Linked DNA regions of Homo sapiens: all the other regions are linked to region 5. Evidence: fine-mapped expression QTL. A gene starts in region 5. Each other region holds a variant in brackets. All regions are shown on one strand. Distances are from middle to middle.

Region 1 (6,264 bases), 280 kb before region 5:
ATCTTCAGGCTAGGAGGCTTTGGTGGGTGGCATCATTAGGAACCACCATACTAGTTCCCTTGGAGGCACCCTGAGACAGCCCATGCTGGCATCCAACTATGGAATGCCCATTAAAACAACTATGGAATACCCATTAAACCTCCAGAGCAGTGGTATAAAGAAAGCACCACCATTCAGCTGGGAGGAAGGTGTTTTAGAACATAATAGAGGCTTTTATAGATGCCACAATGATTGGAGGGGCTAGTGTCATTTGATGGGTAGGGGTCGGGGATGCCAGACATGCTGAAATGTGTAGGAGAATTTCACAAAATGAAGAATTATTTTGTATACCACACAACTTTCAAATGTCAGATATCAGATATTATCCATACAGATGGAACACCTATTTATAATGATCTGTTTTACATTTAAACAAAAAGCATTTGGGGTGTAATTTTAACATATTTTAAGTTTTTCAGGAATACAACCTCTGGGTAAATTCAGGGAAGATCTTTGCTGAGGATTTAGCAGTTCAGAATATCACATCATCATCAGGGATGCTAAGGAGTTGAGTTGCCTACCTCATGGCACATGTCACCACCCTGCGTCTGTTGGGTGGTTCCCTTGATGCCCATTTTCCCCTTATTCAAAGTATCTCACACTTTGATTCTGCCTTCTAGTGAGTCATGCTTGAGAAAAACCTTTGGAAATTCTTATTATAAATAATTTTCTCCTAATTTCTCCTTATATTACAGTTAGAGCATTATTTTGACTTAGTTAAGTGTAGGTAGACTGTGTTTTCTAAAAGTTACACCTCAGGATGGTAGCGAGAACATTACAAGGTTTTTGTTTTTTAGGGGGACACTGGACCTGAAAGTATGACAACCACAGCTCAAGCACATGTGAAACTGTCAGGTCTCTATAGATGTCTCATAGTTGTTACTAACCAGACCCATTCCTCCTGAGGTGGGCTAAACTGAGTGATCTAATGTTGATCATCTTGGCAATACTTGCTCTGGGAGGCATGCTGTACTCTTGAATTCAGGGTAAAAAGGAGAAAGGTGAAGGAAGAGTGGGAGAGGAAAAAAGAGCAGATCACCACTCCACTTCTGGAAAATATGATGGAGTGAAAAGAGCAGTGGCCTAAGACACCTGGACTCAGGTTCCCAGCTAAGCCACGGCTATCTGAACAACATTAGGCATGCCACTTCAGTTCTATAGTCTTGGACTTTTTACCTGCAAAATGGACCAGACCCTCCCCAGTCCAGCATTCTGTGGCTCCATCTTAGACTATGTCTGTCCATAAACTGTCCTACTTAAAGTTATATGTAGAAAGAGAAAAGGAGACAGGGGCACTAAGATTTTTAATAAATGTCTACTCGGCTGGATACTTTAAATATATGAGCATGTGATATTCATAAGTCATGAGAAAAATGAGGCATAGGCAAGTTAAGGTCACAAAATTAGGAAGCAACAGAGCGGAGGTTTGTATCCATGCCTGTCTGATTCCAAAGCCCATGCTTTCTCCAAACTTACCATGTTGGCTGAAGAGAAGGAGATCTGAGAAGCCCAGAGAGACTCTCACTTCTTAACTAAGGGGGAAGAAGCTTCTCTGTTACTGGCCCCATTTCATCTGCTGAACCCATGGTGTCCTTACATGTAGGGTGCCCATTCATCCCCATTTGCCTGGAACAGTCCCACTCTATGTCTGTCATAGTGTCAGTATGGCAGTATTGTTAAAATTCCCTTTTCACTCTCAAATAAATTTTATGATAACTTAATTATAAGTAAGCTCTCCTGTGATGGTATCATAGCCACGATAGAAGCCACACACATACACAAAAACCACTGGCTGTTGCGGGACTTAATGACTTAGGTTAGAAATAAAATAAACTTTATTACTATACTCTCTACATGTTCTATCAGTCCCTCAAATGTTTTCTATTCACAATAAGCAGCATGCAGACTTCTAAAATTTAGTAAGATAGTATACCATTAACCTCACATGTGACTCCTTTATCGCTCCTTTTTGGAGGATAAAGTTTAATACTTCAAGCGAAACTCCTGTCCCATGGGTTTAAAGAAAAATCCTAAGAATGACATTTACTTTTCCAGATGAGAGTTTTTACTTTCAGCAATGGACACTGCAGAAGATCTAATACTACAAATGTTCCTGGTGCCTCTGAATATCTTTGGGAGTCACCAATTCATTCTATTAAAAACCTATGAAGAGTCATTCCAGTGACTCAGGAAAGTATCCACAAAAGGAAACTTAGACACACACACACACACACACACACACACACACACACACAGCAGATCCTAATACTCTCCCATCGCTGCTCCCCAGCTGAAATCTGGAACACTGCCTCTCATGTAAACATCTTCTCCTGGGACTCAGGGCTGCCAGCATAGGCTGGCATTCTTCTTGTTCTTCTTTCCCCATCCTTAGGCTTCATCCTTGCAGACTAAACTCTCTCTTCTCCAAGTAGCCATCATTTGCCAGCCTCTTGGTTATGCCTCTACTTTTGCTGACCATCTTGACACCATGGTCAGTTGCTCTCCCCACCTGCTGAAATGGCTCTCACAAAGTCTCCAATGATCACCATATTGCTAAAGCCAATGAGTGTTTTCTTCTGTCCTCCTACAGATCACTCAACCTCTGAGGTTCCATACTCTCTTGGTTTCCATCCAATGATTCTAAGCTACCTCTGTCTTCACAGTCTCTTCACTACTTGTGAGGGCCTAAACTCTCTGCTCTTCTTGCTCTGTACCCTCTTTCTTGGTGTTTCAACCATATTTATGGCTCCAATATGCTACTACAGTATTGTTCAACCTGGTACTACAGGTCACCAGTGTCCCTTAAGGTTCTGCCAGCTGTCCCTTGAAAAGAGTGTTCCATGGTCAGCTAAGTTTGGGAAACTGCACACTCTATCACTCTTTTGGATATTACCATCAAGGTTAAAAATCCAAACTCTGAAGTCACCTTTCTGGGTTCGAATCCTGGCTTTGTACTAATTGCCACCGACAGTTTCTTAATTACCTAATTGTGCTATTCCCAGTTTCCTCATCTGTAAAATGGGGAAAATTTCAGCACATACTGCATGCAGATATTGTGTGGAGAGGAATACCTGAGTTAATACATGCAAAGTGCCTGACACTGGTAAGCACTCAATAATATTACTACTAGTATATAAAAATGTCTGCAAGGTCCTGAATAGAAGAAATCAGTTTCATGTAACTCAATATTTCTCAAATTAATTCTCCCAGAGAACATAGAACACAACTTAGTTTGGAAAATCCATGTTGCTGAATCTCTGGTCTATCTCAACTCAGAACCCTCCAATGAGATTTACCAGGCAACTGTACATAGGAACATCGACTTCAATACATCCAAACCCAAATGCATCATCTCCCTCCCAACTCTTTACCTCCAATAACACACACTATGTAGTAAATGACACCATATTTTCTTCAGTTTCTTATATCAGCAATCCAAGGATTGGCCAAAATTACTTGTTTTCATGCACTGCTCACATCTGTCATTAACTTCTGCAAACTCTGCCACCTTCTTCATTTTCAAAGTTATCCCTGCCTCTCCATTCTTATCACTTCTTAACTGGATGATAGCAATGGCTTCCTAACTGGTTTCCTTGATTTCAGTCCAGCTT[A/C]TTGTAAGTTGTTTCCAGAATAATCATTTTTAAATGCCTAATTATTTATATCAGTCCTCTTCTTAAAAGGTTTCTCAGCCTTTCAGGTTAAATATTAAATTAAACTCTTTAGCCTGGTACAAAAAGCATTACTCTACCACATACGCTTCCTCCCTGCCCACCTATTGAGGGGTTCCCATATGTGTCATGCTATGTCATGCCTCTGTGTCTTTGCACAGACTGCTACTTCTTCCTGGAATGTCCTCTGCACCCAGATAGCTCTTACTCATCCTCTAAGACCCTATGTGTTATGTCCTCTGGGAAGGCTCTCCTATCCCCCACTCCCGGACTGAGATATATGCTACTTATCTGGTACTTTTCATGGTTGACTCCTTATGGCCCATTTCTCTCCAAATGATTAGTCTAAGCCAGTCGTGGTAATTCCAGTCTCTTGGTCACATTTGGTTTTAAAACGGGCATATGGGCCAACCCTGAAAATAAAAATCAAAGGGGAAGAGGGGAGGGGGCCTGAGGGGATGGATTTTTGAGAAAGGTTTTTACTTCTAAGAAGATCATCCTGGAATGGTACAGACTCCTTATCTGTTGACATTGTTGTAACTGAAAGAAACAGCAGAAACTGGCAGCCGTCCTATGGTGCTGACAGCAACGGCATGAGGGGAAGCTTGGCTGACTGAGAAGAGTGATGTAGAGATAAAATGAAACTGGTCCTCAACCCTGGAATCCTCTCTGACTCTGGACTTGTCTTGGATAATAAATCACCTTATTATTTAAACCAGTGCTAATTAGAATTCCTCATTACTTGCTGATGATGGCATCCTAAGTGATGCAGCTGTCATACCATCTTCTGGATCTCTTTATCTTCACAGTCAGTCATTACACTGTGCTGCAGATTTATTATGGGTTTTTCCACTAAAATTTTATCTCCTGAAAGGAAGGGACTTGAAATATCTACTAGAGAATTGTAGAAATCATTACATGTCATGGCAAACATTATATAATAGCAAAACGTTGGAAGAATTCCCACCAAAGTCAGGAACATTACAAAGAATTATCACCACACATCAGTATTGGCCCTAGCTAATGCAATATGATGAAGACAAAAAATAAGAAGTGTAAATATTGGAAAGTAAGGCACAAAACTCTAGTTCCAGATAATAGAATTATCTACATAGAAAAGAGATGAAAATGAAACAGGACAATTAATAAGAGTTTAAAAAGGTGTTGGAATGCAAGATCAACATATTAAAGCAGGTGGTTTACTGCATACAGAAGAGACAATATAAAAAATGATAATGGAAAGTATCATTCAAAATAGCCAAATGCACAAATTAAAACATCCATATATATCCAGGAATATCCATAACAAGAAGCCTGGAAAACTTGCATGAGGACAATGTTAAAATATAACAAAGTAGCATAAAAGAAAATCTCAATAAATAGAAAAACATAATATTGTTCCTGAATAGTGGCCTTGATACATTGAAAATTCAGCTCTCCTCTCATTAATCTAAAATTTGATGCAATTTCAATAGAAAATCCAACACACTTTCAAAAAAGACAAATGGTAAATGTACACATTAATAATCAAAAACTTCTGGAAAATAAATCAGTGAGCACATCCAGACAATGGAATATTATTCAGTGCTAAGAAATGCCATGAAAAGCTATAGAGGAAGCTTATATGCATATTATTCAGTGAAAGAAGCCAGTCTGAAAAGACTGCATATTGTATGATTCCAACTAATTGACATTCTGAAAAAGGCAAAATTATGAATATCATAAAAAGACCAGTGGTTGCCAGGAATTAGGGGAAGAGAGAGAGAAATAGGTGGAACACAGAACTTTTAGGGCAGTCAAACTATTATGTATGATACAACAGGGGTAGATACATGCCATTAAACATTTGTCCAAACCCACAGAATGTACACCACCAAGGTGAACCCTAACGCAAACGATCAACTTTGAATAGTCATGATGTCTCAATGCAGGCTCATCAAGTGTAACAAATGTACTTCTCTTGTGTGGGATGTTGATGATGGGGGAGGCTGAGCATGTGTGAGGGAAATTCCCCATATGTGGAAAATTTCTATGCCTTCCTTTTAATTTTACTGTGAACCTAAAAATCATTCTAAAAGTATAACTTCCTTTGAAAAAAAGCAATGCAGGGGAAACCTGACCTACCTGATATTAAAACTATACTGTATAGTAATGGAGCAGGAATAATAAAAGATATAATTCAGAAATATACCCTTTAATATAATGGAAAATTTGTTTATGAAAAAGTTTTGCAAAAAGTTGCTAACCAATTGTGGGGGGAGGGGGGAAGGTATATCCCTATACCATGTCATGCACGTGTAAAAATTCCTAAGAAGATAAAGGGTTAAACTAAAAAAAAAATTAGATACCACGTGAAATTGCCAATTTTGAAGGTCATAAGCAGTTATTATCAGCAATTTCATAGAGTTCAAGTAAATGCATTAATTATGAAGAATAAAAACAGGAAACACTTTTATAATCTTGGCATGGGGAAAACTAACATAAAAACAGAAACCTAAAATATACAGAAAGCAAATAGTTTGCACATACAGAAGTTCTCTGTGCATATAAAAAGTGC
Region 2 (6,264 bases), 250 kb before region 5:
TCACAATTCCAGTTGTGAGATGTCCCTTCTCTTTTCTTCTCTATTAGCCACACCCTCCTTCATTTAAACTTGGGATAATCATGACCTTCAGAAAAAATGATTTTCACTCAAAGCAATATTCCAAGCATATAGGAAGAAACTCAGAAAACCCTTAGTGACCAGAAATTAAAACTGCTTTTCTTTCATTTGCAAAACACACAAAAACAGATAATCTCCTGAAAAACACAGACAAGCAACATGGACCCAGAGGCCCTTAGGCTAAGGAAATTCATTTGGCATGGAACTTACAGAGTTCATTGTTAAGATAGATAACAAAAGCCATTTATAACAAGAGTGTTCTCATTATCATCATCTCTTGTAGCCCAGTTGAAGACAAGTAGTGTCTTCTAAGATCCCATCTTTCATACTTTGCACACTTTTCCTCCACCCATGGAATTTTGGGCATCCAGTTGCCTAGTTCTCCTTCTAACCATCAAAGCTGCCTTTCAGGAAAAGATTTACTAGAATTTTTTATGTGTCACTGCAAATTGGTTGCTGCTACCTATCTCAAGGGTATCTGCATTCCAAGCCATATCCTTATTATAGACTAAGAAGTTTTCTCCTGTGAAATAAATTCTTGACTTGAAGCTGGAGGTGAAGGTGATCTTTTGGGGACAGAGTGATCTGCCCTCTTGAAACTGCCCAGTATCCAGATTTTCAACGATGAAACCAGAATCACAAAGTTAAGAAAAAGCATGTTTGTATTCAAAGGTTCCAATAAGTTTATTTTGTGTGCATTTGTTTTCAATTTAATTAATTTCATCAACTTAATTTAAACAAATCTTTGAAATTAATAAAATGTGAGATGTCTGCAGGTGTTTGCAGCAAGCATTGTGGTGAGATTCTTCCCTGAAGTAAGGAGAGTCCTTAAAAACAAAGATGCCTAGAAACACACATATTATTATTATCTTTAAAAATATAACAAATGTGGGGGTTGCAGTGGACACTTCACTTTTTTTTAGCTTGTATCAAAACTGTTGGACAATGTAAATGAAGGATCAAGAACAAGAAGCCTGGGGGAATAAATGGGATGACGAGTGTAGAGATACTTGTGGAGAACTCTTTATTGCCACCAATTTAATTGTGATTACAGTGGCAGACATCAACATCCAATAGAAGTTTCAGTGATAGAGGAAATTATCTCAGTCTCAGTGTCCAATATGGCAGCCACCAGCCACATGTGGCTATTGAGCACTGAGAATCTGGCTATTGTGACTGAGGAAATGGATTTTTAATTACAATGAATTTAAACTTAGTTTAATACAGCCACACATGGCTAATGGTTAGTGTACTGGACTGGTGTAGGTCTAACACCATTAGTCTTTTCATATATAATTTTAGAAATACTTTATACCAGTGAAGTCTCTCCAAGAGAAACTAATAGAGCTCCCAGTATAATACAGCCTTCCAGCTGCAAAAAGCTTATTTACTAAAAACATAGTTTATGGCCCACTCCACCCCATACACTAATCAATTACCCATCATATGCAGAATTGGCGCCTCCCTTGTTTTTTCCAGAGGAAGCCTGCAGCACCAGCATTTGGGATGAAGAGACAGACTTACCCTCACCCAGAGGAAGTTCTTCTTCTTGCTCGCTGGGGGAAGGAAGCAGGGGCTGCAGGGGTTCCATGTTAATGATGAGCTGTTTGTTCAAGGAGTGGGAACTGCGGCTCTGAGTAATGTTGGCTCTGAAAACAGACACAAGCCAGACAGAGTTGGTTTCCATCACAAATGCTGGCCCCTCCATCTCAGCGGGCTGCCCAAGCTACCATTTTGTGTCTACAGGGAACTACCTCCAGACACAGTGAATTGAGCCAGTAGTAAAGATGACGTAACATTCAAGATAAATGGCCCTTTCTGCTCTTAAGGTCCTGACCAAATGTCCCTATGTTCTACTGCAACTCAACGAAAGAAAATACAGTTCCCAATACATCACCAGCCCTGAGCATGCTAGGTGACAGCCTGGGCGTTTTTTAAAAAAAAAGAAAGAAGAAACAAAAAGACATGGGAGGTAGCTAGCACTGAACTAGATATGTAGAAAAGTGAATGAAGGGCATGGCTCAGAGAAATTTAACAACCACCAACAAACAAAAACAAAAACCCCTGCCAGATAGATGATGCAGATGTTCTACAGCTATAAGCTATCTTTGTGTTGCTGGATGTCCAATGTTTAATATCAGTGTTTAATATTCTCAAAGTTACACCCTACTCACTAACTGGCCATGGCTCTGTTTTCTCCTCTGGAAAGGAGCATGCAGGTGTGTCTGGCTGAGACTAGCAACAGATGGCAAGGAAACTGTGCAGGTATCTCATTAAGCCTATTGGTTGGGAGCTGGGGAGCCCGCTTGCCCTACCTGCTGCAGAGATACTAGCTGCTTGCCCTAGTCTGCCTGCAGGTGGATGTTTGCACACCCTTCCTCACTCCCCATGCTTCCTGTCAAAACCAAAACCAGTGCATACTTTAAAAAGGAGTCAAATGTTTCCTTCCCCTGGAAGCCTTCCCAGATTGCTCCTCCCAATGCACACAGTCTCTCTCTCTCTCTCTCTCCCTTCCTCTCCCTCTCTTTGACTACTTTCTCTTCTTTCATAACTCACTGCATTTTCACCTCTGTCTCTGTCTAGTTATTGGTGTACTGATCATCCCCACCTAGATAAGCACCTTAAGGGCAGAGACTGAGCCAGCCATACTTGTGCATCTCACTTGGCATCTTGTGAAAATGTGTTCAGGTTTGAAACTAAAGTGCACCAAATGCAATCCTGGCTTGACATATGTTGCCATTTCAGCCTGGTCAGAGTGTTCCCTAGACCGGCTGCAGGACTACCTTCTAGCCTGAGTGTTTCTGTTGGGCAGCAGGAGTGGGGAACAGCAAGATGCCTGCTACCATCTTGAATTAAAAGCTCCCATGGCTGGCATGGGCTAGAAAGGAAATTTATGAGGACTTGCTTAGCCATGGAGTCCTTTTCTTCATTATTTCATTTTACAGCCATTTACTCTGCAGCTGATATATACAAATTGGACATTCTGCTTTGCTCCAGAGAACTGTAGTCCTCACCTTAAGTAACTCACTGTCTAGAACCATAATTTTTAAGCTTTCTGGTCTGAGACCTACATTAATAAATACTTTTTTTTTTTTTTTGAGACAGAGTCTCGCTCTGTCACCTAGGCTGGAGTGCAGTGGTGCAATCTCGGCTCACTGCAACCTCTGCCTCCTGGGTTCAAGCAATTCTCCTGCCTCAGCCTCGCGAGTAGCTGGGATTACAGGTGTGTGCCACCACACCCAGCTAAATTTTTGTATTTTTAGTAGAGACGGGGTTCACTGTGTTAACCAGGATGATGGTCTTCATCTTCTGACCTCATGATCTGCCCATCTCGGCCTCCCAAAATGCTGGGATTACAGGCTTGAGCCACTACGCCCAGCCCCAAGAAACACATTTTATATAATCTCCCTGTACCCAAACACACACAGGAAGAAGCACAACTGAAATTAATGTCTTATGGAACAATAGTTACATATCTATGTATAATCCACTATTTTAAAATTCTAGTTCATTTTAAGTCCCAGTCTTGATCACTACTTTATTTCATAACTACCCCCAACTTTGTATTTTTTATTTTTTATTTTTTTGAGACGGAGTCTCACTCTGTCGCCTAGGCTGGAGTGCAGTGGT[A/G]CGATCTCGGCTCACTACAACCTCCACCTCCTGGGTTCAAGTGATTCTCCTCCCTCAGCCTCCCGAGTAGCTGGGATTACAGGCATCTGCCACCATGCCCAGCTAATTTTTGTATTTTTAGTAGAGACTGTTTCACCATGTTGGGCAGGCTGGTCTCAAACTCCTGACCTAAGGTGATCACCCACCTTAGCCTCCCAAAGTGCTGGGATTACAGGCGTGAGCCACCACGCCCAGCCACATGACTCCTTTATGTGCTGTAGCCACAGCTGGAACACCGTGCCTCTCATGAAGGTGACTGATGGCCAGGGTCCCATGGGAGCACAAAGGAGGGGCACCTAATCCGGTGTGAGTGAGGAGAGAGCCAGGAGTGATCTCCCAAGGGAGGCAAGGCCTGCAGCTGTTCTGGTGAGCACAGTGCTTTCTACAGGGAAAGAACCGTAGATAGAGAAATCTTTACAAAAGGAAGGAGGGGAGGGAGGGAGGAAGGGAGGGATAAAAATTCGCCATGAGCAGTTTCTTCTTTTATTGTGAAGGGTTCTCAGTTTTTGAGCTCTCCTGGGATTTCTTCTGGTCATGGCCACTCATGACTATGATTCTAACTCTGCAAGGACAACATACTGTCATTCCTGTGTGGTCTGTGTAGCTTTCTGACCTCTGAAAAGCCCATCCATCCATTCTTGCACGTGCAGTTCTGAATTGCTCTACTCCACCTCTGACCATCCATGCCAGCTGGACTGGCTGCTGTTCCTATCCCCAGGAATCACTGCTTATGCTACAACGATGGGCCCTCGGTGAGCCTTTATGAGCTTATTTTGCTCCCCATCAGACCTCCTTCCAACATTCTGTAGCTGGAGATACCAAGCATCCTGCTGCCCCCAACCCACAACATTGCAATGTCCAGACAATTGCCTAGCTCTAAGACAGGCTGGGCTCACCAGGCTGATATCCCAGGTATGAGCCTGCCTTGGCATTAGATGGCCAGGAGGATGCCAGCTCGGCCCCTACATTCATAGGCTCCTGTTTCTCTGGTGTAGCAGAGGCCCATGGCCAGGGACAGGGGCATATAGGACGTGCCTTGTATTAGACCAGGTGACTCCTGCAGTGGATTACAACCCTGAGACTCTCCAATAATATGACTCAGAGAAGAACATTTCTTCCCTGATAAGTATAAGACTCAGATAAACCCAAAGGTGGATACAACTAGGGATTTCCCTGAAGCACAAAGAATCCAGGGCTCCCAGCCCAATGTGAGGCACTTTGACAGCCTGGGGGAAAGAGTCAGCAACATTAAAAAACAACAGGCCAAGTCTCCCACCTTTCGCTATTGTGATGGCCTCAATGTCTGTGTTTCCTTAAAATTCATTTGTTGAAACCTAAACTCCAATGTAATGGTATTAAGAGGTGGGGCCTTCAGGAGGTGATTAGGTCATGATCACATGAATAGAATTAGTATCCTTATAAAAGAGGTCTGAGAGAGCTTGTTTCCCCCTTCTGCCATGTGAGGACACAGCAAGAAGGCACCATCTATGAGGAAGCAGGTGTTTGCCAGATGCTCAATCTGCTGGTGTCTTGATCTTGGACTTCCCAGCTTCTAAAACTGTGAGAAATAAATTTCTGTTGTCTATAAGCCACCCTGGTCTATGGTATTTTGTTATAGCAACCCAACTGGACTAATAAATCTACCAACTCCTTTAAACTAAAGATTACACCTTCTTACCTAATTCTCTCTTTAAACTTTTTAAAGGTGCCAACTGATCCTGGCTTCATTTAAAGCAAGAGCCCGCCAGCCCAATTGAACTAATGACAAATATAATACGCAAATTTGAATGGCTATCTTCTTTTCATTTGCAAAGTTGTTTGTATAAACTTTACCTCATCTTTTTCTCTTAGTGCGTCTTGCCTATAAGACAGGCAAGGTAAATGTCATATTTGCAGATGAGAAAACTGAGACTCAGGGAGCTTATGTAATGTGACTAAAGACGCTTATATGGGCAAACTTAGGACTCAAAGCTCAAAGCCAGATAATCTGATTCCTGGTCCAAGGCTTTTGCTATGCTGCACACTGCCTTTCTGCATGATTTGGCCTGCAATGTCCCAAAGGAGACTCTGCTTGCTACCCCTACTGTCCTCCTGTTTCTGGCTACATGAGGTCCCACTGTGTCAGGCACTTTCTGAAGTATGTGCAGATGTCCCAGTCAGCTTCCACTCTGCCTTTCCACCTGAACTCCTGAGGTAACTGTGTTTATGCCTGAGGTCCCTCCAGGCCAGGCTAGGATACGTGCCATGTTTCTCCACTCTCAGAATCCATCTATCAGATGACTCTGCAAAAATATCTGGCCCGCTTTGCAGCCCCACTCATGCATGTACTCCCAGCATAGAATGGTCTCCAAATGAAGTTGTCATTAAGAACTCTATTGAAATAGAAAGGTTTCCTTTGGGAACTACAATTATATTCTAATACTGGGGCAAATGTGGTTTGAATATATTTATCCCATTTGTTTTTCTCATTGTGCATGTAAGATGGGCAAGAAAAATACCATATTTACAGGTGAGGAA
Region 3 (6,264 bases), 69 kb after region 5:
ATCTTACAAGGTCACTGTGAAAAGTAAATGAGATGCTGTATTTAAGTGCCGTGCCCTGCATCTGAATCACTGTAAGCCTCTCCTTTTCCCTCTCCCACTCACCAGGTGGTGGGATTTCAGGGGTCAGACCAACAGCTAGAGGCAGAGCCAGGTGTCCCAGAACCCCAGCTACTGTGTCTCAGAAGTGTAATAAAGGCTCAAGCCAAAGAGGGGCCTTAGGAATCATCTACTTCACTGACCCTCTCCCCTTGATCTAACAGATTAGAAAATTGAAGCCAACAGAACTGATTTCCTTTTTTACCTTATTTAACCAATAAGTTTATTTATTTGTTGAGCAGTTGCCATGAAAGGCACTGTGTTAGGTCACTGGCGTTCAAGTACTAATTTTGAATGCAGCAGTGTGCTAGGTGCTATAAACATGAACCATATCAAGGATGAAATATACTTAGAGACATGCCAGTCCTCTCAAAACCCCAGTCCTGGCCGGGCACGGTGGCTCACACCTGTAATCCGAGCACTTTTGGAGGCGGGTGGATCACGTAGTCAGGAGATCGAGACCAGCCTGGCTAACACGGTGAAACCCCGTCTCTACTAAAAATACAAAAAATTAGCCAGGCATGGTGACAGGCACCTGTAGTCCCAGCTACTCAGGAGGCTGAGGCAGGAGAATTGCTTGAACCCGGGAGGTGGAGGTTGCAGTGAGCAGAGATCACACCATTACACTCCAGCCTGGGCAACAGAGCAAGACTGCCTCAAAAAAAAAAAGCAAAACAAAAAACAAACAAAAAAAAAACAATCCTAGAGGAAGTTGGGAAGGAGGTGCAGAGGGTCAGAAGAAGACTATGGAAAAGGTTATGAATGATCCTTTAAGATATAAAAAATAAACTAATCATCAGCATATTGTATCAAGTCAACATTATTGCTAATCGTGATAAATTCATCCATATTGAATCCATCACTATCTATCATGAACCAGGCCATTGTTAATCAATAAGCACCATCTTGCACAAAACATCACCATGGCAAATGCTTTGCCTCAGCATATTCAGTGGATGTTCTGCAGAATGTGACTCTGCTCCCCAGGAGGAAAAGGAACATTCACAGCAGTACCAGCTGCTTTCCAGAAACCCCGTGTGCAGAAACTCTTGAGGTACTTTTCATGTCTGTAATTCTGAGGGACTGTTATTCTTTTCCTGCTCATCCTCAGTGAATAGACTACTTCTGGAACCTGCTGCAGTCAACTCAAACAGTAGACAGGTGTCATGACAGTGCAGAAGAAAAAACAGTGATGATATGTGAGTGTGTCTGGGAACCCGTGGGGCAGAAGTCAGAGTGGAAAAGGGCAGAACATCAGTTTGTATCAAACAACCACAAATATCAGCAACACCCAACATTCAGCATTTACTTCTCACACGGCTATGGGTTCTGCCCTCTCAGCTGAGCCCACCCAGGTATCTACAGATTGATTGGCAGTTGCCTCAGCTGGGCAGCTTGGCTTTAAGGTAAAGGTCTAACTGGTTGGGGCTACTCATAGCAGGTTGGGCTTACATCTGCTCTATGTGTGTCAATTCTAGGGGGCAGGAGATAACAGTCTCGTAGGCAGCAGCAAACTCTTCTCAAGGTGATGGCAGAAGCATAAGCAGTCAAGCAGAAAAAGTGACACGTCTTAAGGCCTAGGCTCAAAACTGGCACACTGTCACCTTCGCCTTCACTCCATCAGCCAGAGTAAGTCAGATGGCCAAGCCCAAAGACAAGGGGCACAGTGCTTCACACAGAGGACTGCAGAGTCACATGGTAAGGGCAAGGGATGTTGGTACAGAGCGGAGTGAAAAAAGGGGCCACTAAGTCAGTAGACCACAGACAGGGGCAGAAAGAAGTATCTAAACCAAACAGAGCACAAAATCAGGGTAATGCCGTCTACCAGTGTCTGATCAACAAGAAATACAGGTATAAGAAAGTATCCGTCCTAGCCAGAGCAATCAGACAAGAGGAAGAAATAAAGGGCATCCAAATTGGTAAAGTGGAAGTCACATTGTCACTGTTTGCTGATGACATGATCACATACCCAGAAAACCCTAAAGACTCATCCAAAAAGCCCCTGGGTACATGAATTCAGCAAAGTTTCAGGATACAAAATTAATGTACACAAATTAGTAGCCCTGATATACACCAACAGTGACCAAGCTGAGAATCAAATCAAGAACTCAACCCCTTTTACAATAGCTGCAAAAAAATAAAATAAAATACTTAGAAATATACTTAACCAAGAAAGTGAAAGACCTCTGCAGAGAAAACTACAAAACACTGCTGAAAGAAATCATAGATGACACAAACAAATGGAAACACATCCCATGTTCCTCGATGAGGAGAATCAATTACAAAAAATGACCATACTGCCAAAAGCAATCTATAAATTCAATGCAATTCCCATCAAAATACCACCATCATTCTTCACAGAACTAGAAAAAAAAATCCCAAAATTCATATGGAACCAAAAAAGAGCCTGAATAGCCAAAGCAAGACTAAGCAAAAAGAACAAATCTGGAGGTATCATATTCCCCTACTTCAGACTATACTATAAGGCCATAGTCACCAAAACAGCATGGTACTGGTATAAAAACAGGCATACAGACCAATGGAACAGAATAGAGAACCCAGAAATAAAGCCACATACTTACAGTCAAGTGATCCTCTACAAAGCAAACAAAAACATGAAGTGGGGAAAGGACATCCTAATCCACAAATGGTGCTGGGATAATTGGCAAACCACATGTAGAAGAATTAAACTGGATCCTTATCTCTCATCTTATACAAAAATCCACTCAAGATGGATAAAAGACTTAAATCTAAGACCTGAAACTATAAAGATTCTAGAAGATAACATTGGAAAAAAACGCTTCTAGACATTGACTTAGGCAAAGACTTTGTTATGGTTTGGCTGTCTCCCCACTCAAATCTCATCTTGAATTCTATCTCCCAGAATTCCCACGTGTTGCAGGAGGGACCCAGAGGGAGGTAATTGAATCATGGGGGCCAATCTTTCTCATGCTATTCTCGTGATAGTGAATAAGTCTCATGA[A/G]ATCTGATGGGTTTATCAGGGGTTTCCCCTTTTGCTTCTTCCTCTTTTTCTCTTGCTGCTGCCATGTAAGAAGTGCCTTTTGCCTCCTGCCATGATTCTGAGGCCTCCCCAGCCATGTGGAACTGTACGTCCAATTAAACCTCTTTTTCTTCCCAGTCTTAGGTATGTCTTTATCAGCAGTGTGGATACAGACTAATACAATGAATTGCTACCAGTAGAGTGGGGCATTGCTGAGAAGATACCTGAAAATGTGGAAGCGACTTTGGAACTGGGTAACAGGCAGAGGTTGAAACAGTTTGGAGGGCTCAGAAGACAGGAAAATGTGGAAAAGTTTGAAACCTCCTAGAGACTTGTTAAATGGCTTTGACAAAACTGCTGATAGTGATATGAACAATAAAGTCCAGGCTGAAGTGGTCTCAGATGGAGATGAGGAACTTGTTGGGAACTGGAGCAAAGGTGACTCTTGTTATGTTTTAGCAAAGAGACTGGCGGCATTTTGCCCCTGCCCTAAAGATCTGTGGAACTTTGAACTTGAGAGAGATGATTTAGGGTATCTGGCAGAAGAAATTTCTAAGCAGAAAAGCATTCAAGAGGTGACTTGGGTACTGTTAAAAAGCATTCCGGGCCAGGCGCGGTGGCTCACGCCTGTAATCCCAGCACTTTGGGAGGCCAAGGCGGGCGGATCATGAGGTCAGGAGTTCGAGACCAGCCTGGCCAACATAGTGAAACCCCGTCTCTACTAAAAATACAAAAATTAGCCAGGCATGGTGGCACACACCTGTGGTCCCAGCTACTCGGGAGGCTGAGGTGGGAGAATTGCTTGAACCTGGGAGGCAGCGGAGTTTGCAGTGAGCAGAGACTGCGTGCCACTGCACTCCAGCCTGGGTGACAGAGTGAGACTCCGTCTCAAAAAGAAAAAACACTCCATTTTAAAAAGGAAACAGATCATAAAAGTTAGAAAAATTTGCAGCCTGATGATGCAGTAGAAAGAAAAACCCATTTTTTGAGGAGAAATTCAAGACAGCAGCAGAAATTTGCATAAGTAGCAAGGAGCCTAATGTTAATCCCCAAGACCACTGGGAAAATGTCTCCAGGCCACGTCAGAGAACTTCACGGCAGCCCCTCCCATAAGAGCCCAAAGGCCCAGGAGGTAAAGGTGGTTTTGTGGGCTGGGCCCAGGGTCCCCATGCTGTGTGCAGCCTAGAGACTTGCGTGTCCCAGGCCGCTCCAACCATGGCTGAAAGAGGCCAAAGTACAGTGAAGTAATTCAGGAATGGAAAACCAAACACTGTATGTTCTCACTCATAAGTGGGAGCTAAGCTATAAGCTATGAGGATGCAAAGGCATAAGAATGATACAATCGGCCAGGCACAGTGGCTCACGCCTGTAATCCCAGCACTTTGGGAGGCCAAGGTGGGTGGATCCCCTGTAGTCAGGAGTTCGAGACCAGCCTTGCCAACATGGTGAAACTCCGTCTCTACTAAAAATACAAAAATTAGCCAGGCTTGGTGGTGGCCACTTTTAATCCCAGCTACTCGGGAGGCTGAGATAGGAGAATCACTTGAACCCGGGAGGCAGAGGTTGCAGTGACCTGAGATTACAACATTGCACTCCAGCCTGGGTGACAAGAGTGAAATTCCATCCCCAAAAAAAAAAAAGAATGATACAATGGACTTTGGGGACTCTGGGGAAAGGGTGGGAGGGGGGTGAAGGATAAAAAGACTACACATTGGGTACAGTGTACACTGCTCAGGTGAAGGGTGCACCAGAATCTCAGAAATCACCACTAAAGAATTTATCCGTGTAACCAAACACAAACTGTTTCCCCAAAAACCTACTGAAATTTAAAACACACACACACACACCTGGCAGCTGGGGGGAAGAAAGTACCCCATTTTTCAAGATGAAAAAGTTCTAGAGCTCTGAGCTCTGTTGCATAACAATGTGAATACACTTAACACTACTCAACTGTCCACTCAAAAATGGTTAAGGTGGTAAATTTTGTTTTGTGGGGGTTTTTTGTATAAATTTAGGGGGTACAAGTGCCATTTTGTTACATGAAATATTGCACAGTGGTGAGGTCTGGACTTTTAGTATAACCATCACCTGAATTGTGTATTATACCCAATAAGTAATTTCTCATCCCTCAGCCCCTCCCACTCTCCCACCCTTCTGAGTCTTCAATGTCTATTATTCCACACTTTATGTCCATATCTACACATTAGTTAGCTCCCACTTATAAGTAAGAACATATGGTATTTGACAGTTTTCTGGGGCTTTTTTTTTTACTACAACTAATAATGTTTTTTAAAAGGAGGATTTACTCCATTATAAATTCTGTCTGTGGTAGCCAGCCTCCAAGACAACACCCCCAATAATTCCTACTTCCTGACATTCACACCCTTGTATAATTCCCTCCCATATTGTTCCAGAAGTGACTGTGACACAAGATTAGGTTATAAAAGGTTGTGGCTTTCATCTTGGTTCTCTATCTCTGTCTCTGTCTCTCTCTCATAACTCACTCTGGAGGAAGCCAACTACCATGTTGTGAAGCCACTCAGGCAACCAATGGAGAAACAGATGTAGCGAGCAGCTGAGGTCTCCAGCCAACAGCCAGCAAGAAACTGAGGCCTCCAACAATATGTGAGTGAGCATAGAAGCAGCACCTTCCCCAGCTGAGCTTCCAGATGAGTCTGCAGCCCTACTGACAGCTTCACTGCCAGTCCAGATTCCTGGCCCTCAGAAACTGTACTATAATAAATGTTTGCTGTTTTAAGCTGCTACGTTTTGGGGTAATTTGTAATGTGGCAATAGGTAACTACAACCCTATGTGATGATCATTGATATTTATAATGACCCAGGGCACTTAAATATTCTGACATATTTTCTTTTTATATATATATAAAGAGAGAAAGACAAGGTTTTCCTATGTTGCCTGGATTGGTCTCGAAATCCTAGCCTCAAGCAGTCCTTCTGCCTTGTCCTCCCAAAGTGCTGTGATTACAGGCATGAGCTCTGTGCCCGGGTCTGACATGTTTTCTGAATCTTCAATAAAAGATGCAACTACAGAAAGTTTTCTAATATCACTGAAGACTTAGTATACTCAAATTCCCGGTGTGACAATAGGTGTGACTCTCAGTCTACAAGGAAATTTGATTGAGTTGAAATCCACATCCCCCTATGCT
Region 4 (6,264 bases), 290 kb before region 5:
GCATGCCTGTAATTCCAGCTACTCAGGAAGCTGAGGCAGGAGAATTGCTTGAACCCAGGAGGAGGAGGTTGCGGTGAGCCGTGATCGTGCCATTGCACTCCAGCCTGGGCAACAAGAGCAAAACTCCATCATCATCTCAAAAAAAAAAAAGTGGAATCGTGAGATTCCTCCAAGGTGCGTGAACAGATAGAGAAGTTTAATGGCAAGTGTCACAGAGTTGAGTCTCATGCAGCTCTCTCTGGCGTGGGAAGGCACCCTTTTCTGGCCAGTGATGATAACATATTAATTTCTAGCACTCTGAAATCCATGCTCCTATCTGTCAGTCAGAATACCCCTCTTCTATTATTTTTTCTGTGCTTTTCTATTTCTCTGGTTAACTTAATATCATGAATTAGATCAAGGTTTATTTTATGTTTGAGCATATTTTCAGTGCTAGTATTCCTGCTTTGGGCCTGGATGACTTCTGCAAAGGGTTAATCTAATCTATTACCTGGGATTTTTTTTTTTAATACTATCACCATTATATGTTGACCTCATTTCATGGTCCTAGAGGGAATCCTTTTATAGTTTCCAACAACCTGACTATACAACTTTACTTTAAATAAAACTGAATGATTGCAAAAAATTTTACCCCAGAGTATTTTTATTAGGGATTCCTGCCACCATATTAACATATAAAACAATCTGGATGTTGACATAGAAATGCAAATTTCACTATACAAAGGTAAGGCTCCAATCACAGTAACATGGCCCCCATATCTCTAGTATTTCAATGAAATAAACTCATTGTGAATTCACCCCGAGTTGTGTTTATAAATATTAGACAAACCACAAAATATATTCCAAATACATAACATTTTACAATATTTTTCAAGCACAGACAAATACATACTTTACTTTACCTACATTGTTTTCATGATCCAACTTGCATTAGCACTAAAGGCAATATTGTGTGTGTATATGTATTTGCCATATGTGTGTGTGTATTATATATATTTATTTATATCCACAAATGTACACTCAGTGGCATTTATGGAAAATTTAACCCTTTCAGGCTGTGGGTTTTACCCACCATAGTATCTGAGAGGGAGAAGAACCAATAATACATCTCAAATTCCTCAATTAGGGCAAAATAAGCACAATTATGCATGAGGGGCATATATGTTGTGTCTATTCAAAGACACACATATATACAGATTCATATATAAACACACATATACCAATAATATGGAATATACATATACTCACACACTTGCTTTAAACTCTATATCTCACTCTATAATATACTGTCCATCTCTGGAAGCAGGCTTTTCCTCATTCGATTCAGGCAACTGGTGACTATCTTCTAACAAAACTTAAATGGATGTTTCTAAAAGGCTCTGATTCTATGCCGAGCAAATGGCATTTCAAGATTCCAGTTTAACTTTTGATGGCTGTTTAAATTCAGCAGACCCTATTCTGTCAACTTCTTCACTTAAAAACATTTCTATTCAACAATGAAGTTTCCACCTAAGAGAAAAGAGATGTTAGCTGGAAATGTTAAAATAATATATTTATTACTCCTTAAGATAAATCTGCATCGTTGGATTACATGTGATATTTATACTATCATATTTTTTAAGTATTTTACAATGGAAAATATATTAGTTCCATAATTTAAAAAATATTATATAATATTATTTTGAAAGACTGAGGGCCAGATGATTTGTCATAGTCAGAACTTTAGAGAAAATTATATGACGCATGATCAGAAGGGGACTAATTTTGTGCAGACTACACTAAAGTTGCCTTATGTCAGAAAGGATGACTTAGAAGTCGTATGAGAAAAGAAGGAGAAAAACACAAATTTCAATTTCAAACCTAGCCATCTGCAAGCTTCCAAAATAAATTGTTGAGGATTCCAATCACAGAAAATATATTCCTAAATCAGTATCAACTTTCAGGTAATAAACAAACAATCTTTATTTAAAAAGCAAAATAAATCACTGAAAGCATATAGGAAAGGAAACCCCTCAAACTTAATGGCAAATATATAGTCATTTGCTCGACTGCAGGCTTCACGAACTGAGTTTCAAAACTCATTTCCAAAATTAAATGTCCAGTGAAGTACTCAGAGCTCCACTGAGTGAGTGGAAATGTATTGCCCAATTTAGAAATCATGCTAATGATAGGGTTGGAATGTCATTAGCTAGAGAGAGCGATTCCAAGTGGGCCCTGTAACTTTGTACATTAGGGCAGTGGAATGTTTTCAATCCACAGAGAAGCTCTATGCTCCATGGCATAAGTTCTAGACTCTTATCTTTCTCCCACATAACACAGTATCAGCAGGTAGTCTGCATGGGAAGGCATCAGTACGTTGCTGATGGTACAATGCTCTAGTACCTTCCTTGATACCATTAAATTGTTGGATTAAATCCTTTCCATCATGGATTTAATGGTATCAAGGAAGGTACTAGAGCACTGGTCCCCTCTACAGTCTGGTTAGGGTCATGTCACTACTTTACCCAGGCTGAACTGGTATGTCATCTCATGAGGCCTCTCCAGTTTCTCTATGGAAGTCAAATTTTAAAACAACTGGGAAAGGAAAGGAGTATAATGACCACCGCAAAACATGATCATGGACATGTATCAAAAAGCCATTCATATTCTCTCTCTCTCTCTCTCTCTCTCTCTCACACACACACACACGCACACTCACATACAAACACATTTTTGAAGTTTCTTCTACAGAATCACAACAAATGGCATGAGGGATCAAAATATTTACCTTAAAGTTTCTCCACTTTTATTTAGATCCACTTAAACATGTTCATGTTAACTCAGACAGCGACTGCACTGCTCTTCACATCATCGAACGCTGGCATCACCATCACTTTCATAAAATAGACCATTCGCCTGTCACCATTTGCCTGCCAGCCTCACCAGAACTCATTTTTGCCACTTTCCATTTCTCCAGTTCCTATCTGCCTTCACTCTTGGGTTAATGTACATTGATATGCAACTGACTAGCACATCTGTTACCTTTTTTCCTTTAAACTCTCACTTTCTTTTTAAAACATCTGCTTCTCCAGCCAAAATATACGGACAGAATACAAATGAAAATAACAAGTCCTCTTGTCCAAATACTTTGAAAAATGGACCACCCTGAGTCCACTTGATGCTCTCAGTTTCTACATCCTCCAGTTCCATCCTCTGTTTTAGCAGCTTACTTACTATAGTGTCTTTCTACCCATTTTCTATCTCCTATGCAGATCATAACAAATTATGGTATTGTTCAGCCAAAAATATTTTTAAAAACAAAGTAGCGCCAAAACATTAAAAAAATTCTGATATACCTTTTGTGCATTAGTCTTACAATCTGTACATGTAAATAACTCCAGGAGGCTTCTTTTTTTTTTTTGCTAAAAATTTACCAAAATAGTTTGAACACATAAAAATATTTTTAAAAAAACA[G/A]AACCAAAAACCCAGCATAAATTTAGTTGTATAGGCATTGGTTAGAGGACACTGTTTTCACTAAGGATTATATTCAACAACTTTCTCTTGAGTTGTTACTAAAATTCTGATTCTGAACCTTATAGCTTATAATGGTGCCAACTATTAGAAATGGGAAAATCTAATTCAGTCCAATGTAACATGTATTATGATATAATAGATGAAGGGTATGTCTACACTATAATAAAAAATAAACATATTTTTGGTTATTTAAAGACCATCTTCCTAACCTGTAACTAAAATAACTGTATTTGATTTAAACTTATTTAAGTGCAGTGAATTATGGAAAGCTAACTTAAAGGTTTGAATAATCAATTATGAGTAAGGAACACCTGTTGACAGCCCCGTGACCCTTCAGAACCAGGCATTTGCTGAAAAAAAGAAATCACTAGCATTGAATATAGCCCTTAGTCACGTGAGAGATTAACTTCATGAGCAACCCAGCATGTAGAGGATGAGGTGGACTTTCCCAGCCACCCACTCCTTGAGGGGACAGTAGTATTCATAGTGAAACTGCTCAAACTCTGGTGTCTGGCGGATTTCGCATAAGAAGGAGAGATCAATACCTGACTCCAAAAGGAGGAGGAGCAGGGGAAATACAAAGAGCAGCAGTCCCAGGCCCACCACAAGGAGCCTGGAAAAACTCTTGACCAGTGGGTTCACCCGAATATGGCCAGTCAGAATGTCATAGCTCCACGACAAAGCACGGCGAGCCTCCTTCAGCTCCTCTTCTTCAGCAATCAAAAAGGCGTTTTCATCTGCTTCCAGATCCTCAAATGAATCTGTGTCTTCTCTTTCCAACTCAAGCCTAGAAGGACAGTCAAAGAGCATGTCAATCTCATCGTCATCCACAGGGGTGGGGAGCAGGCTGGCACTTGGGTTGTACACTAGTTCAGAGATGGTTAAAGGTTCTTCTTTTATTTTATCTTCCTCTTCACTAGGGGGATCTTCATACTCCCGGGCTGCCTTCACTGGGGAGCTGGAGATCAAGGGAGCAGAAATGTTCTCCTCTTTAGGCAATGGAACACCTGTAAAGAGACATTTTTTTTTCTAAATTTAAAATTTCAGATTTTCCCACAAAAATCTGCAGGAAGAAACAGAAAAACAAAAAACTAATGGGATTCAAGCAATCTATGAAATTATTCTGTGGTATCCTAAGTTGTAACAAAGTCGTATTATAGTAAAAGACCCTGTACCATAAGTTCAAAGGTCAACATGCTAAACTCAAACTAACCAACACTTCTCAAATGGTTGGCAATATTTACAACATTTAGGTGTGCAATTTTGATCTGCAAACCTTGAACCTTGGCCATGTTTGCTTGAATAAAATGACAATAAATTCACTATTATAATTATGAGCACTGTTTTTTTAGAGGTCAACAATATCACCCGATATATTATAGTAAAACAACAGAATCTGTCATTCAATGACAATCTCTTTATTATTCTGATGTATTGCTTTCTAGTCTTCATTCTAGACACAATTTTGTGTTCTAGTTTTATATATTTGCAATCATATTATATACCCAAGCTTAAATCATGCTCCTTGCATTTAAAATTTTAACATAAATATTTTCTATGTTTAAACAAATTCCCATTGGTATTATTTATAAAAGCTGCCAAATTTTTTATTTAGTTATGCAATAAATTAGTTGCCTATTGTCAAACATTTAGATTGCTTTGCAGTTGTAAGGAGAAAATGCTATGAGACATCTTTACATATAAAGCTTTTTTTCCCCTCTTGTTTTAGTTCATTTGCTATAGATAGATGCTAGAAGGGAAATTGCTTAATCAAAGGGTAAGAACTTTTTCTAATGTTTATTGAGAGAGAGGTGTTTCTCAATGCCTCATTTTACTGATGGGAAATCGAGTTACCTATGGTCAGACCTAGGGCTAACTCTGCTAATTTTGAGTCTTGGATCCATAGTGGGAAATAAAGTTAGCATCAAAGAAGTGTCCTCCAGGATGGATCTACCATACAATCAAAATGGCAGCCAGGTGCATTTCGGGAACCATAAACCAGCTTTTAATGAATCTATTATGTGATTTTTCTCTCTTCAAGGTGTACAGGCATAACTTACTGGTTTTAGCATTCAAAAATCAACAGATATTTCATGATAGCTCTAGTCTGATAGCACTGAGAAGTCCAAATGAAAAATACCATAAAAATACAAGAAATATACAAAAGGTCAACAAGCACATGAAAGTATGCTGAACATCATTAATCATTAGGGAAATGCAAGTCAAAACCACAATAAGATGCTACTTTATGCCTACTCAGATGGCAACAGCTTTTTTAAAAACTGAAAATAACAAGTGTTGGTGAGGATGTGAAGACATTAGAACCCTGCATATTGCCAGTGAAACTATAATTGGTTCTGGCCATTGTGAGAAAAAAATTGACAGTTCCTCAAAAAATCAAACATAAAGTTATCAGATGACCCAGCAATACCACTCCCAGGTACATACTCCAAAGACTTAAAAACAGGTACTCAGAACGCTGGAACCCAAGCTGGCCAATTAGAGGCAGCTGTGGTCTGCAGCACTCATGGAGATGAATAAAAAGGGGCTAGTAAATGCAGCACCTTCAAACTGAGATACCCAGGTTCTCGCATTGGGACTGACTGGGCAAACAACTCAACCCACAGAGAATAAAGAAAAGCAGAAGAGGGGGTGATGGCCCACCTGGAAGATGCACAGAAGCAAAGGAGACCCCACCCCGACCCCCAGCCAAGTGCAGTGTTGAGTGATTGTGTGACCCCACCCAGGAAA
Region 5 (6,264 bases):
AGGAAGGAAGCAAACACAGATGGATTCACCCAGAACAAGTGCCAGTAATTCCAAATGGTTTTGTTTCGCATTGTTTTTTAATCCTTTTGTTCTCACTCTAAGCAAATGGGAAGTCTTTGTTACCTGATACCCGGAAGGGCAATTTCAATTCCTGGTCTGGAGTACTCTAGGAAAGTGTGAGGTCTAAAGTTATCCAAATAAAATATTTTAATTTATTTTAATTGGTTAAATAATAATTGTAATTTGGGGGCAGAAAGGGCAGAAAAAGACAAATCACAAAATGAAACATCATAATTTTTTAAAAATCAGTGCCCAAGCCAACATTTTGAAACATAACATTTTAACCTCTTTGGCACTAGTTGGGTCATAAGCACTGGAGTTTTTCAAACTGTTGTTAGACTGGCTACAATTTATTGTTTCTCAAAACACAAGACAACAAATACATGTCCTTTGGGGAATATTTATTATTCTAAGGAAGACTTCATCCTGAGGGAGGGGAAAAAAATGTCAACACCAAGTGGTACAGGGCAGAAGAGGGCTGAGAGACAGAGGAGAACTCAACAGCCTCTCTCCCTGACGGCCCCTCCATCATCTACACATTCATTATGGGTTAAAGGACCTGTACACCCACTTTAGGACTTAAAGCAAAGTGCACAGTCCACACTCTCTGGATCACAAGACTATTAGTACATGCCAGATGCTTCTGTGCAACCCTTGTGGCAGTAGAAACACTGCCTATCCTGCTAATCCTTTTATTATTAAGTTTAGCAGTGCTGCTTAGCTCAGAATGAAATTCAAGCTCCCCCAGAAAATTCAATGGGAGCCTACTTTCCTGGGAGATCATGGGGCATCACATTCCTACCTTGACACTTGTCCGGCTGTCAGGTTACAAATTAATTGCAACTGCCCCCAACATGTCACACACTCCCACTAACAAAAATTAAATAAAAATAAAACAGGGAAAGTCCTTTCATTCCTTCATGGTTTGCACAGCCTAGAGGCTGATTCCTACTCTGGGAGATGCTGCCCCACTCACCTCCCACTGACATGGGTGGTGTGCCCTGTATTACACTAAAAAAAAAAAAAAAAAAAAAAAGCTCAGTCCCAGAGCCTCAAGACTCGACTAGGGTAGGTGAGAAAGGAAATCCCAGAGATAAACAGTTAAATAGATTTAGAAGTCAGAAGTTAATTGTGCTGAGCCCTGACACAACCTTTCCTGATTGTGTGCGCACCGAGTGGGGCATCTTTGGGGTCCTGGAAGAGGGGCTCCCACCTGCCTACATATTCACCCACAGCAAATATGCACACGCACGCGCAACCACATGCACACACACACCTTTGCACCTCACACTAGCTCTCCTGACAGCCCAGAGGCACTTACTACCCGAGGACAGGGCTGCCAGCAAAGCTGCCTTCTCCCAAACAACTCGCCTTCTCCTCCAACTTGGGCGACAGTGAATGTCCACCAAGATTCCACGGGGCTCTTTTACCCAGGACCCAGGTTCCTGCAGGGCTCCCCACTTGCTGGCCTCACAATCCCTTTTCCTTTCTCCGAAACACTCAGACTTCACACATTCCTTTCGAGGTAGCTCCAGTCCGGCGCAGCGCGCGCTCCATCCCTCAAGGCTGGCGCCCAGGGCAGCCCGGCCTCTCTCACTCTGGGGAAACTTCGCCACCGCCCCACGCGGAGAACTAAAGACCACCGGCGGAGGGTGAGGGGGACCGACACGGAGCGGAAAGCAGGTTCCGGGACTGAGGGCGTCTCCGGAGCCTGGGCGCGGGAGACAGAAATGAGTGAACCCAGCTGATGCATGCCTTCTCCACGTGGAAGAAGGGAGGAAATACCAGTGGGCGACATGCAGGTGCCCCTCTCAGCCCTCGGAGCTCCCATCTCCTGGCGGAGTAGGGCCCAGAGGGGCCAGAGTCCCTCCGGAGGCAGCTGCCCCGCGCCCCTAGCCCGGGCGCAGTGAGACGCGCGCGCAGGGTGCACGCGAGGGGAAGGAGACTGGGCGCGGATAACGCGTGCCTGGCGCTTGCAGGGCACCATGCCCCTCCATGCCAGGATAAGGCCCCCCACCCTCAGAGGCCTGAGGAATCGAAATCTGGCTTTCTAGCAGTCCCCCAATCCCCTCCGGGAGTGGGTTCCTTGTTCTCGCATGCCCACCGCAAAGGCCCCCCGCCCTGCTCCCGGCGTGTGCCCCGCGCCCTCGCCCGGTTCCACGCGCACCTGGATGTGGCAGGAGATCTCCGAGTCGTCCAGCAGCCGGATGGTGCATCTCATCTCCTGGCTGAGCGATTTGACGCTGGAGCTCCGAAAGTGGATCATTTTCATGGTCCTCCTGCCTCTCGGCACACAGTGGCAGGAGGCGAACATGCACCGCGGCCGTGGGGAGCGAGCGGGAGGCTCAGGGCCGGCGCGGTGCTCGCCTGCGCGGACACACACGCTCGCACGCACTGTCCGGGACACCTGGGCGCGGCTCAGCCCCGGGACATCGGCAGCGTCGGGCGCCTGCGGACACACATGCCCAGCGGCCGGGGCGCGGCGGGCGGGTCCCTCCCTCTGTTCGCTCGCCTCCGCCTCGCCCCCTCCTTTCCCCGCCTCCTTCTGTCGCGCGCGCTCGTGCGCCTCCCTCTGCCCGGGCTCGCTCGCCGAGGACGCCCAGAGCCTGAGACCCCCGGCGGGCTCGCGACGCACTCACTCCCACGCGCGCCGAGCAGCTGAAGGAGGAGGCGGAGGGATGGCTGGCGCGGCTGGCCCGGGTGCCCTGGTGGTGGCCTGCTCAGTCGCAGCCGCCGCTGCGTCAAGCTGGGCCCGACTGCCTTCCTCAGCCTCACCGCCTCCTCCCTCCCCTGGCCGCTGTCGCTCGGGCTCCCGGTTGTGCTCGTCCCGGCCCCGGCTCCCCAACGCGCTCGACAGCGCCCTGCTCTGCTCAGCTCCAGGGACCTGGCGCGGGTAGGGGACGGAGAGCGATCCTGACCCACACCGCCAGGGGGATTCCGCCTCGGGAAAGGATTGCTGGGCCCAGGGCGAGTGACAGAGAGAGTGACAGCCCTGACACGGCTACACCAGGAATATCGCTAATAGTAAAAATCTCTGGTACTCATGGAGATTGTTTAAGCCATTGTTTTATTTAATGCTAGCTAGGACTCAGTCTCTTTCTCCAAAAAAGAGCCTTCCATGTGCAAATCCTCCTTTAAATCTCCCAACATCTTAGTGTGATCTTTGATAGCATACCTTTGACCCGAGCAAGAGGGATAGGTTCCTATCCTACTCCCCTGCTTTACAGACCTCCTCCAGTTCCCGGTTGCTCAGGAATTAAGAGGTCTAATGGCAAAGCGGATGTGCCCCATCCCGTTTTAGTCCAATCTCTGGGTATTGAGGACTCTGGAATTCCCCACGCGCCTCCAGGGTGTTGAAGGTAGGAGGTATCCTGCCTCTCTGTTGTCCCCAAGGTGGCTAGAGCCACTGTGTCAGGTACCGTAGGCCCGAGAGTGGCCAGGAGCAGCTGTTGAGTCAGGGGTATGGAGCTTGAATGTGAGCACTAGAATGTCCAGGAGCTGGGAGAGATGGAAGTCCTCTCACCCTGTTGCTCTTGCCGGAGCAGAACAGGTCATTAGGAAGGAACATTTGTTAGAAGAGGAGGTGTTGACCAGCTGTCAGCTTTTTCAAGGTTTGTGCCTGCATAGAGTCCCCTCATCCAAAGATATGCCCTGTCCTGGGGGTCGAGGAAGAGTGGCACACAAATTTTACCTGCCCTGGACAGTCTGGTGGGCCATATATTCTCTAGGACACCTAGTGGGGTTGGCTAAGGTTTGGGGGAGTCCGCATTGCATTTGGACTTCTCTCTCTGCCTGCTCCTGCCTCCTCTCCCTGTTGATCACTAATAAATACCACACAGGACAAACTCAGTCTCAGTATCTGCTCCTGGAAATTCCAAATTGCAACAATTTGTCAAGATAGGAGGATAGAGAATGTTTTATGTAGCACTCAATAGCTGACTATTGCTTATGAATATTTAGATGATAGTATGGGGCATTCATGTAGGCTCTTGAGCTGGGCCCTTCAAATGTTAGGGCAGATCCTGATGGAGAGGTCAGTATTGAGGGTATGGGAAGATGTGGATTTCATTCTTGGCCCAGCTACTGGCTAATCCTGGGGATCTTTGAAAAGTCTCTCCATTTCTTTTCTCATTTCAAAGGAGAGAACACCTGTTCATCCCACAGGTGGCTGGGAAGCTGGTATGACACCGGGTCAGTGGAGGACATCTTACAGCTGTAATCTGTAAATCCCCATATGCACATATGAGGTGGCAGGGATGGGACCTGCCCCAAGTTGAAAACTGGATCATCTCTGCTAGCCAAAAGAGCAGACAGCCCAGAGATCAAAGAAAAGTCACCAGCCAAACAGTCCATGCTTTTCTTTTAAGACCACACACACACTTGTCCATCCTATTATAGTGACCGTTAGGCTCCAAAAGAGTCATATCAATACCCAAAAATTGTTACCCCAAATTCCAAGGAAGCAAAATAAGACCAACAAGGACAGTAGTGAAAAAGACAGAATAAAGATAACCCAATGTGGGACTGTAAGAAACAGAATTTTGAAGAAATGAGAAGAATCTGAGATTGGTTGTCTGGCCTGATTAGGAATAAAGGCTGAGATTCAACTAGTATGAAAATACAGGCTCTGGAAGCACTTGGCATGACAGCTAGGTAAATTACCAAGTATGGTCACCTGGATTGAACTACCCAATGAAGACAAGGCTCTGGGAAACCAACTGGCCATTGTCAACAATAATAATAATAATATGAAGATTAGGAAGAACTCAAAGAATGAACTCAAGGGATGAGTTTAAAACTGGACCACTGAAAGAAAAGTAGTGATGCACTAAGTCCTAAATTATCAGCTTATGACTTTTAAACAACTGTATTTTTACAAACAACAGAGCTCAAAGAATATCTTGTTAATTGAGCCACAAGGCCAAAACTGAAAAACCAAATTCACAATTTCATCTACAAATCGCCAAATTACAAAGTCAATTGAATTATCGGCCTCACAAGATTTTATAATTATCAGCAGGAAAGAGTGGGAATCTGGGAATAAGAATAGGACTATAAAAGAAAACTTGAATGATTCCTAGTCACTCAAGCCCCCAAACTCCCTTGGCAGCAGAAGCATGCCCTCTTCCTTATGTAACGAGGCTGTTCCTGCTTTGTTTGAAGATCCTCTTCGGAACTCACTTAAGGCAGTTACCTTGGAAAGGGAAGCCGATCTCCTCCCACCCCTCTCCCACCATCTCTGACTACTCTCACTCTTAATACTTGAACCAGATTCAGTCACACCCTAGGAGACCAACTATAAAGTCAACCCCAAGAAGAGAAAGAATTGCAAGATTCTGCTAATTTACATTGAAGAGTATATGTGTGAATAAACCTGAATCTGTCCATTTGAATTCACTTCCCAATGACTCTGGTTTCAATGTACTATCTAAATTGACTAACTGACTTCTGGACTCAGCTAAATGAAGATGAGAAAAAGGAAATTCCCTGGTACATGTACAGGAAAAGATCCAAAGAATCAAGGAGATGGAAATATTGCAGTGTATTTCCACATGTGGCCAGCTTACCTCTCTTTAACTGTGTCCCCTGAGGGGGCATCCACCAAGATTTTCAAAGAATCATTGGCAAAGGAAGGACTGCCATCTTTGAAAAGCACCAAAGTGGCTGTTCTTTGTAGCAAGAGATGGTTGTGAAAGACACTGCAGTCAAAAGGAGCTCCCTGACTTAAATGGGAAGGATGAGAGCCTGGGCTGGCAGAAGACAAATAGTGGTGCATGACTTAACCCTCAGTGCCAGGGAGGGCTTGGTACAATCATAAGCAGTGGTACCCAAGTAGACTTCAGAATGGTGTGACTCATAGGGATTTTGCTGGTGGCCAAGCATCCAACTAGGACTCAATTTGATCTATAGGACAAACAAGATTTCTACACCAGGTGAACAAAGGCCAGGCTAAAATCCCCCTACAAATATTCCCAAATCTGAACCTGTCCCCCAAAGACAACCAGAAACATTTTTTTATTTTTTATTATTATTATTATTTTTTACCGATTGGGTCCCACTATGTTGCTCAGGCTGGTCTCGAACTTCTGGCCCCAGTCAATCCTCCTGCTTGAGCCTCCCAAGTAGCTGGGATGACAGGCAACAAACAGAGGACATTTGAGTACAGGAAAGGTGGCTCCACTTGAGGCATTAGAATGTCAGCCA

Direction of the effects. Alleles are on the strand shown, and positions count from the first base shown. SD is a standard deviation of normalised expression in the study named. Not every link is listed here.
For the expression in monocytes of the gene that starts at base 2,544 in region 5, A is the low allele of the variant in region 3 and G is the other (moderate effect, 0.73 SD a copy in Quach 2016).

Evidence for each region. PIP is the estimated chance that this variant, and not a neighbour inherited with it, causes the effect.
Region 1: its variant is fine-mapped to the expression of FRMD3 in whole blood (TOPMed, PIP above 0.99).
Region 2: its variant is fine-mapped to the expression of FRMD3 in whole blood (INTERVAL, PIP 0.91).
Region 3: its variant is fine-mapped to the expression of FRMD3 in monocytes (Quach 2016, PIP 0.95). The same link has a PIP of 0.9 or more in monocytes after LPS and monocytes after Pam3CSK4.
Region 4: its variant is fine-mapped to the expression of FRMD3 in whole blood (INTERVAL, PIP above 0.99).

What each region holds. Positions count from the first base shown.
Region 1 is chr9:83,258,848-83,265,111 of GRCh38, forward strand. All of the region lies in intron 13 of FRMD3 (FERM domain containing 3), which reads right to left. All of the region lies in intron 2 of FRMD3-AS1 (FRMD3 antisense RNA 1), which reads left to right. Among named protein-coding and RNA genes, the nearest start is that of FRMD3-AS1, 43 kb to the left of the region's middle. The variant A/C (reference allele first, on the strand shown) is at 3,651.
Region 2 is chr9:83,289,001-83,295,264 of GRCh38, forward strand. FRMD3 (FERM domain containing 3) reads right to left here. Exons shown (of 14, transcript NM_174938.6): 13 at 1,603-1,727. It overlaps LOC124902190 (a long non-coding RNA gene), which reads left to right. Exons shown (of 3, transcript XR_007061614.1): 3 at 1-867. Among named protein-coding and RNA genes, the nearest start is that of FRMD3-AS1, 73 kb to the left of the region's middle. The variant A/G (reference allele first, on the strand shown) is at 3,709.
Region 3 is chr9:83,604,723-83,610,986 of GRCh38, forward strand. No RefSeq gene overlaps it. Among named protein-coding and RNA genes, the nearest start is that of IDNK, 15 kb to the right of the region's middle. The variant A/G (reference allele first, on the strand shown) is at 3,080.
Region 4 is chr9:83,243,997-83,250,260 of GRCh38, forward strand. It overlaps FRMD3 (FERM domain containing 3), which reads right to left. Exons shown (of 14, transcript NM_174938.6): 14 at 626-4,520. The coding sequence ends at 3,922. All of the region lies in intron 2 of FRMD3-AS1 (FRMD3 antisense RNA 1), which reads left to right. Among named protein-coding and RNA genes, the nearest start is that of FRMD3-AS1, 28 kb to the left of the region's middle. The variant G/A (reference allele first, on the strand shown) is at 3,454.
Region 5 is chr9:83,535,858-83,542,121 of GRCh38, forward strand. It overlaps FRMD3 (FERM domain containing 3), which reads right to left and starts at 2,544. Exons shown (of 14, transcript NM_174938.6): 1 at 2,228-2,544. The coding sequence starts at 2,374. RefSeq lists a silencer at 497-791.